3 separate regions of the Homo sapiens genome follow, and all the other regions are linked to region 3. The links come from fine-mapping of genetic effects on gene expression. A gene starts in region 3. Each other region holds a variant in brackets. All regions are shown on one strand. Distances are from middle to middle.

Evidence for each region.
Region 1: its variant is fine-mapped to the expression of CDYL2 in testis (GTEx, PIP 0.96).
Region 2: its variant is fine-mapped to the expression of CDYL2 in whole blood (INTERVAL, PIP 0.98).

The regions. Positions count from the first base shown.
Region 1 is chr16:80,639,842-80,642,597 of GRCh38, reverse strand. All of the region lies in intron 2 of CDYL2 (chromodomain Y like 2), which reads left to right. Among named protein-coding and RNA genes, the nearest start is that of LINC01227, 68 kb to the right of the region's middle. The variant A/G (reference allele first, on the strand shown) is at 1,455.
Region 2 is chr16:80,831,454-80,834,209 of GRCh38, reverse strand. All of the region lies in intron 2 of ARLNC1 (androgen receptor regulated long noncoding RNA 1), which reads left to right. Among named protein-coding and RNA genes, the nearest start is that of CDYL2, 28 kb to the right of the region's middle. The variant T/C (reference allele first, on the strand shown) is at 1,585.
Region 3 is chr16:80,803,052-80,805,807 of GRCh38, reverse strand. It overlaps CDYL2 (chromodomain Y like 2), which reads left to right and starts at 1,210. Exons shown (of 7, transcript NM_152342.4): 1 at 1,210-1,658. The coding sequence starts at 1,635. RefSeq lists silencers at 930-989, 1,010-1,319, 1,930-1,999, 2,280-2,429.

The DNA of each region.
Region 1 (2,756 bases), 160 kb after region 3:
CCCAGTCTACCCGATGTCTTTGTCAGCAGCGTGAAAACGGACTAATTCAATGAGGTTTGCAAATAATATCTTATATCTCATCATTTTAAGCTTATAACAACACTATTTGCATAAAGAAACAAACAATAACAAACTAATAAATATATAATTTTTTTTAGATGGAGTCTCGCTCCGTTAACCCAGGCTAGACTGCAGTGGCGAGATCTTGGCTCACTGCAACTTCCGCCTCCTGGTTCAAGCCATTCTCTCAACTCAGCCTCCCAAGTAGCTGGGATTACAGGGGCATGCCACCATGCCCAGCTAATTTTTGCATTTTTAGTAGAGATGGGGTTTCATCACTTTGGCCAGTCTGGTCACGAACTCCTGACCTCAAGTGAAGCACCCACCTCGGCCTCCCAAAGTGCTGGGATTACAGGCGTGAGCCACCACACCCGGCGACTAATAAATATTTTATACCTTAACTTCATCCCCCTGCTTTTCAACTTCTGTTTCTATTTATATCTTATTGTACTATGTCTTGAAGAGTTGTTGTAGTTATTATTTTTGACCTGCTCATTGTTTATCCTTTCTATTTAATAAGAGTAGTTTACATCCCACAGTTACAATGTTATAGTATTCCGTTTTTTTCTGTGAACTTGCTATTACCACTGGGTTTTATGCCTTCAGATGATTTCTTTCTTTTTTTTTTTATTTTTTTATTATTATACTTTAAGTTTTAGGGTACATGTGCACAATGTGCAGGTTTGTTACATATGTATACATGTGCCATGTTGGTGTGCTGCACCCGTTAACTCGTCATTTAGCGTTAGGTATATCTCCTAATGCTATCCCTCCCCCCTCCCCCCACCCCACAACAGTCCCCAGAGTGTGATGTTCCCCTTCCTGTGTCCATGTGTTCTCATTGTTCAATTACCTCCTATGAGTGAGAACACGCAGTGTTTGGTTTTTTGTCCTTGCGGTAGTTTGCTGAGAATGATGGTTTCCAGTTTCATGCATGTCCCTACGAAGGACATGAACTCTTCATTTTTTATGGCTGCTTAGTATTCCACGGTGTATATGTGCCACATTTTCTTAACATCCTTTTCTTTCTGATTGAAGTGCTTCCTTTAGGCATTTCTTGTGGGAGAGATCTGGTGTTGATAAAATTTCTCAGCTTTTGTTTGTATGGGAAAGTCTTTATTCCCCCTTCATGTTTGAAGGAGATTTTCACCAGATATACTATACTAGGGTAAAAGTTTTTTTGTTTTGTTTTGTTTTGTTTTTTGTTTTTCTCCTTTAGCACTTTAAATATGTCATGCCATTCTCTCCTGGCCTGTAAGGTTTCCACTGAAAAGTTTGCTGCCATATGTATTAAAGCTCCTACATTGTGTGCTATTTGTTTCTTTTTTCTTGCTGCTTTTGGAATCTTTTCTTTATCCTTGAGCTTTGGGAGTTTGACTATTGAATGCCTTCAG[A/G]TAGCCTTATTTGGGTTAAATCTGCTTTGTCTTCTGTAACCTTCTTGTACTTGGATATTGATATCTTTCTCTAGGCTTGGGAAGTTCTCTGTTATTATCCCTTTGAATAAACTTTCCACTCCCATCTTTTTCCCTACCTCCTCTTTAAGGCCAGTAACTCTTAGATTTGCCCTTTTGAGGCTATTTTCTAGATCCTGTAGGCATGCTTCACTGTTTTTTATTCCTTTTTCTTTTATTTCCTCTGACTATATATTTTCAAATAGCCTGTCTTCAGGCTCACTAATTCTTTCTTACGCTTGTTCAATTCTGCTATTCAGAGTCTGCTGCATTCTTCACTATGCCAGTTACGCTTTTTAGCTACACAATTTCTGCTTGATTCTTTTTAATTATTTCAATCTCCGTGTTAAATTTATCTAATCGAAGTCTGAATTCCTTCTCTGTGTTATTTTTAATTTCTCTGAGTTTCCTCAGAACAGCTACTTTGAATTCTCTGCCTGAAAGGTCACATATCTCCCTTGCTCCAGGGTTAGTACCTGGTGCCTTATTTGGTGAGGTCATGTTTTCCTGGATGATCTTGATTCTTGTAGATGTTTGTGTCTGGGAATTGAAGAGTCAGGTATTTATCTCTCCCTGTAGCCGCCACAGATGGGAATGTGCTGAGTCTCACCTGAAGCCACCAAGTCTCGGAGTCTTACCCAAGGCCCTCAACGTGGTACCTGTATATTGCTGCTGGTTATTCAGGGCTCTTCAGTTAGCAGGTGATGAATCCTTCCAAGATGGGATCCTTCCCTTGAAGGCAGCAGGTTCCCTTCTGGCCCAGACTGGGCCTCATGACTCTGACCAGTGCCCCATCCTGCTGTGACTGAGCTGTTATCCAAAATGCAAGACAAAGTCCTCCCTACTCTTCTCTCTCCTCTCCTCAAGTGGAAAGGAGGGATCTCTTTTGGATACTTGAGGTGTGCAGTCTGGTGTTAGGAGAGCGGTGATACCAGCACTCCCTTAGCCACCCCAGCTGGTGTCTCAGTGGATTGTGTGCCCCCTGAGTCTACTGGCTCTGGGCCCATTGCGGGACTAGGATTGGCCTTGGAGGTCTAGCCCTTGTGGCCTAGACCACCTTTCAGGTTTATCTAGGGCCCCAGAGCACTTTATCCCATTGTGGCAAGACTTGCAGGAACTCAAGTTCTGACCACTGGGATATCAGTGATTCCCCTCTGGCTAGGGCTGGTCTAAATGCTCCGTCATTGGGTAGACGTCAGCTGAGTTTGGTATGCTTTTGCTTTCTGCTATAACAGGACAACAGTG
Region 2 (2,756 bases), 28 kb before region 3:
ATAGAATTGAATCTAGGACATCACCGTATGCTACTACCATGCAGTTTTATCCCTTCTAAGAATCCAAATGCCCTAGTTTAATTTCTAAATTTTTGTTTTGTTTATTTTCACTAAAGCAACATGTTAGTGGACTGCGGAGGGAAGTGAATTCATGGCTGGTCCTCATCTTGATATCTTTTAATAGGATCATGAGGCAGTGTGGTAGGAAGAAAACGTTGTATTTAGTTAAAAAAAAAAAAACAAAGAGAATCTGCCTTTTAAGAGAGGAAGAGCATGGCTATCAGAAGTGAATGGCTCTTTGATGGAGTAAAATACTTTGATGAGACTTTGTGGTTGATGAAGATGTCTCTGTCTTGCTTTTTTGACTACTTCTAGGCAAAACCTAGATTTGTAAGGGTAAGTGAGAGAGCTCAACTGCTTCAGCTTAGAAAATAAGGATTTTGACTGTTTGTGGGCAGCCCAAGAATGAGGTAACTGAATGTGGGAAGCCCAAGAATGAGGGGCCCAGTGTGTGAGAATTGGATCCCAGAAATATGGCCATAGGCAGCCTCTGGGGAGAGACCAAGGCCATGAGAAGCTCCCCATGAAGGAGACATTATGGGACGTGTGTGAAAATGACACAGTTTTAAATTACGTGCGTTCTGGCTGTGAAGGAATGGTTGTAAAGAAACCACTTATATTATCCCTAAAAGCCTCAGTAAACGTTTGCCACACGATGTAACAGCTTTGGGATAGTTGCTGGGGAAGAGGGAAGGAGGCTGAGTGGGGTTCAGAAGCAGCAGGGAAGAGAGGTGACCCACAGGAGGGTAAGCCCTACTTCATCCACTCCTCTTTCCCATTCTCACTCTCTGAGGCACTGGAAAGGTCACAGGACCTCTCCTAGTACATGAGATGGGAGCTCGACACATTTTATTTGGAGAATAAAAGAAAATATGCCGTCATCAAACTAGAGCGTGTTGGGGGGCATCTGGTTTACAGAACTAAGTCAAGGAGAAGAACTCTCAAGCAATGGTGACATCTGCCAGCTCTGCAAAGTGGGCCCTGCCTTGTCACACAAGTCTCCTTGGGCAAATGTTTTCTATGTAGATTTTAGACACTTTCCTGTGACTTTCTCAAGGTCTTTTGGTGACACATGCAGCTTGAAGCTTTTGCAAGGGGCTGGAGTCTAATCTCTTCTTGCCCAGCTTGGCTGCAGGAGAAGAAGGGAGATATGTTAGGACTTGGCTTTGACTGAGGTGGTGTAGCCTGGGGTTGCAAGGGCTGTTGCCAAGGCTTTCTGGTGGCATCACATGCTTCAGGAGTTGGATGAATTTTCTGTCATCTTTTGGACTCTGTCGCCTCAAGATCGCTTGTTTTGTTGCATTGCAAAGATCATGTTAGCTGTGTCTCCTTGCCGTTCTGAGAGTGCCTGGCTGCCAAACACAGTCCAAGAACTGTTGAAGAGGCCTCTTGCTAAAGGTGACAAGTTGAAGATGCCAAGGCGTTTGCTGCAGTCATTTTTCTTGCCCAATCTTTATCATCTTCCATTAGTCAGGAGTATTAATGGACAGTCCTGGAGTGTCCAAATGGCAATAATCCATCTTT[T/C]TCCCAATCCTACCAAGGGTGTTTCAATGCAGCTGTTGGAATAGTAATGTTTGTGCATTATTGCTGTTCTCAGGGTACTGTAAACTTCTCCCCCTCCTGGATCTTTGCTCACTAAATCAGCCCTAACCCTTTCTCTTCAGTCTCTTTCTCTTGACTTTCCCCTAGATCTTGCCCCTAGACCATCACTCAGCTGGTTCCTCTTCATTGCCTCCATCTTAGTTCAAATGTTTCTTCTTTGGACAGTTTGGAGTTTTGCTCCCCCTCTTCCCTGCCATTCTATAGTAGGTTTTTTTTTTCTTAAAATAGTGCATATCATCTGGGTGCGGTGGCTCATGCCTATAATCCCAGCACTTTGGGAGGCTGAGGGGGTGTATCACGAGGTTAGGAGATAAAGACCATCCTGGCCAACATGGTAAAACCCTGTCTCTACTAAAAATACAAAAAAATTACCTGGGTACGGTGATGCGTGCCTGTAATCCCAGCTACTCGGGAGGCTGAGGCATGAGAATCGCTTGGAGCCGGGAGGCAGAGGTTGCAGTGAGCAGAGATCATGCCACTGCACTCCAGTCTGGTGACAGAGTGAGACTCCGTCTCAAAAAAAAAAAAAAAAAAAAAGGTGCATATCACTACCTGTATTGGCTTGTTTAATGGCTTACTTAGTGTCTTAGTCCGTTGTGTTGCTATAAAGGAACACCTGAGGTTGGGTAATTTATAAAGAAAAGAAGTTTATTTGGCTCATGGTTCTGCAGGCTGTACGTGAAGCATGGCCAGCATTTGCTTCTGGTGAGGGCCTCAGGGAGCTTCCAGTTATGGCGGAAGGCGAAGGAGAGCTGCATCACATGGCGACAGGAAAGAACAGAGAGGAGGAGGTGCTAGGCTTTTTCTTAGTACCCAGATCTTGCCTGAACTAATAGAGTAAGAACTCACTCATAGGTATGGCACCAAGACATTCATGCATGATCTGCCCCCATGGTCCAAAAACCTCCACTAGGCCTCACCTCCAATACTGAGGATCAGATTTCAACGTGAGATTTGCAAGGACAAATACCCAAACTGTATCACTTGCTTATTATCTTTCTCCCTCTACTAGAATATAAGCTCAAGAATGACCAGGATTGCATCCGATATGCTCACCATCGTATCCTTCCCATGTACAACTGTACCCTGCACAC
Region 3 (2,756 bases):
TTTTGGATTAAAAAATTTGGTGACTTTTCAAAGTTTGACAACCTCAGGATTAAACAATTTATCGAGCCCCTCTGCCATCTCACTCTCCATGAGGGCAGTCCAGGTTGAGACTCAGATACAAATCACCTTTATTGAGTTCTGCTGGGATGGACAGGTCACTTCATGTATACGTAGATCCTCTCCTTAATTCTATTTAAATCACTTAGGTGACTATCACCATCTCCCATCAGGGTTCGGTGACCTGCCCACAGCCTCCCAAGTAGAAAATGATCCAGGGAGCATGTGAGTTAATGATACATCACATCTGGAGCCAGGCAGGCATTTCATGGGTGGGGATGAAGATCTTCCCTCCAATTTCAGAAGTCTGACCTTGCAGGTTCTGAAGTAACTATATACATAAATATTTATAAGGAGAACCCTTTAAGCAGAGGGGTGACCATTTATCCATGAGAGATGGCTTAGGAACGGATTTGGGTTTTGGAGAGCTTCTCTAGCTCCTCCAGCTCCGCAGCCTGTCACACGCAGGATGACCTTTTAGAACAACTGAGTGCTCCATTACACTCCTCACTTGCGGATTCAAACTGTCTCTGGGCAGGGTCCCAGTTTTGCCTGTCCAGGGACACTGTGCACTTGGGTTGACTTTGGTAAATGTTTGAGTAAGGGATGAGTGAATAAATTCGGGGAGAGGGGTTGTTGAGGGAAGGCCACCCCTGGCTCTAAAGACTTTCCAGGGTTTATGGGGTGGCCACGCCTGTCCTGGATCCCCATGGTGCCTCTGGATGGGCCATTTCATCCTTCCTCCCTGTGGCCTCCACATCTTACAACCCAGCCTGGAGGGAGGGGCCGCGCAGCCCCGAGGGGCCAGGTCTCCCAGGCGGCGTCCACTCCCCTCGAGGGTGGAGGAGGTAGGTGGGGACCCCGGGCCGGCGGGGCTCGGCTGGGGCCCCTTCCCTGAGGTCTGCAGCCGCAGCCCTCTACCTGGCTCCCCGGCCGCCCCTTCGCGGCCCCAGATCGGGCGCACCCGGCGGGCACCTGGCCCGCCGCCCCCCGGGGGCCCCGCCAGCTGCTCCCGAAGCCGGCCCGGGGTGGCGGGGCGGGCCCGAGCGCTAGTCGACTCTGGGACCGGTCCCCCGGGGCGCGGCCGGGCAGCAGCCCCCGCCTCCCCGCCCCGGGGGCCGGGCCGGGCTCCCGGGGGGCGGGGACTCGCCCAGTGGCAGCAGCGTCCGGGCCGGCGGCGGGCGCCGGGCGGCTTCCTGCAGGCGGCGCCGGGGCGAGCCGTTGCCGGCTGCAGCCACCGCCGCCGGGTCGCCGGGTCGCGGGGGCCGCGGCGCTCGGGCCGCGTCCGTGCCTCCCGGGCGCGCTGCGCGGCCGTCGCTGCTGCCCGCGCTCGTGCCGCCGCCGCCGCCGCCGCCGCTGCTGCCGGTTACGCCAGCCCCGCCGCCGCCCGCTCTGATTCTGCGCATAGGCAGCCCCCAAGCCTGTCATTCTGCAAAAACACAGTTTACTCAACACACCACACACACTCGCACACACACGCGCGCACACACACGCGCACACCGGACCCCGCGCGCACACGCACGGAGGGCGCGAGCGAGCAGACGCGCACACCGGCGAGCCAAGTTCCGCAGCCTGGCATGGCTTCTGGGGACCTTTACGAGGTACGGGGACGCGGGGGCGCGGGCCGGCCCCAGTCAGCGGGCGGCGGCGGGCGGCGGCGGCGGGCGGCGGGGACCGGGCCGGGGCCGGGGCCGGGCGCAATCCGGAGTTGCCGAGCCCGCGGCGGCGGCGGCGGCGGCCGGAGGGTGGCGGGGGCCGGGCGCGCCTCCCGCCCGCCGCCCGCCGCCCGCCGCCTCCCGCGGCGCCCGCGCCCGCTCCCTCTTTCTCTTTCTCTCGCACACACACTCTCTTACTCCATCTACTTTGCGGCCTTGGAGGGGAAGGAGGAAGCCGGGCGGAGCCGGGGCGGGGGAGGTAGCGGTCCCGGGGAGGTGTTTCTCGCCCGACGAGCCGCCTCGAGTACAGAAAGTACAGGTAAAAGTCGGCGCCGGACGTGCTGGGAATGCGGGGGGGCGCGCCGCGGCCGGCGGGGGTGTGGGGCGGGGGTTGCGCGGCCCGGCTGGGCCGGGGGCGCGGGGGAGGAGGGGGGCGGGCGATCGGAGCGGAGCCTGGCCGGGGCGAGGCGGGGTCCCGGGGGGCTGCGAAGGGGGAGGCTGGGTGGGGGTTCGGGGGGACAACCGCCAAACCGCTCCCCGGGGTCCCCGGGCCACCTCCCTCACCCCCCACCTGCTGCCCCCGCACCAGCTCGGACGCCCTCCGGGCTCGGGCGTGGGGGTGGCCCTTGCGGGTGTCGTGCTCCCTGGGGGCGAAAGGGGGCGCTGCGGAGGGCCCTGGGTGGGAGGAGAACGTGGAAGTCTGAGGTGTTGGGGACATAGGACACAGATGCCAGCCCAGCGCCCAGTACTCTCGTCACCCTCAGTGGATACCTGGCTCCAGGTCCTAATGAGTAGTGGCCAGCGTTGGATACTCTCATGTCTTCCCAAAAGTGGCGAAGGAAGACATTAGTCTGGCATCTTTCAAACAATGGAGGAACACCCATGGTCTTTGGGGAGCAAGGGCTTAGGAACACAACTGTTACTGCTTTGGGTTTTCCACAAGTGGACAACACAAGGAACAGCCAGCCACCACTCCCCAGAGGGAATGGCCTCAGAGGTGTTGGCCGCCAAGACCAGGTTCAGGATAAAGAAGTTAAGAGACCA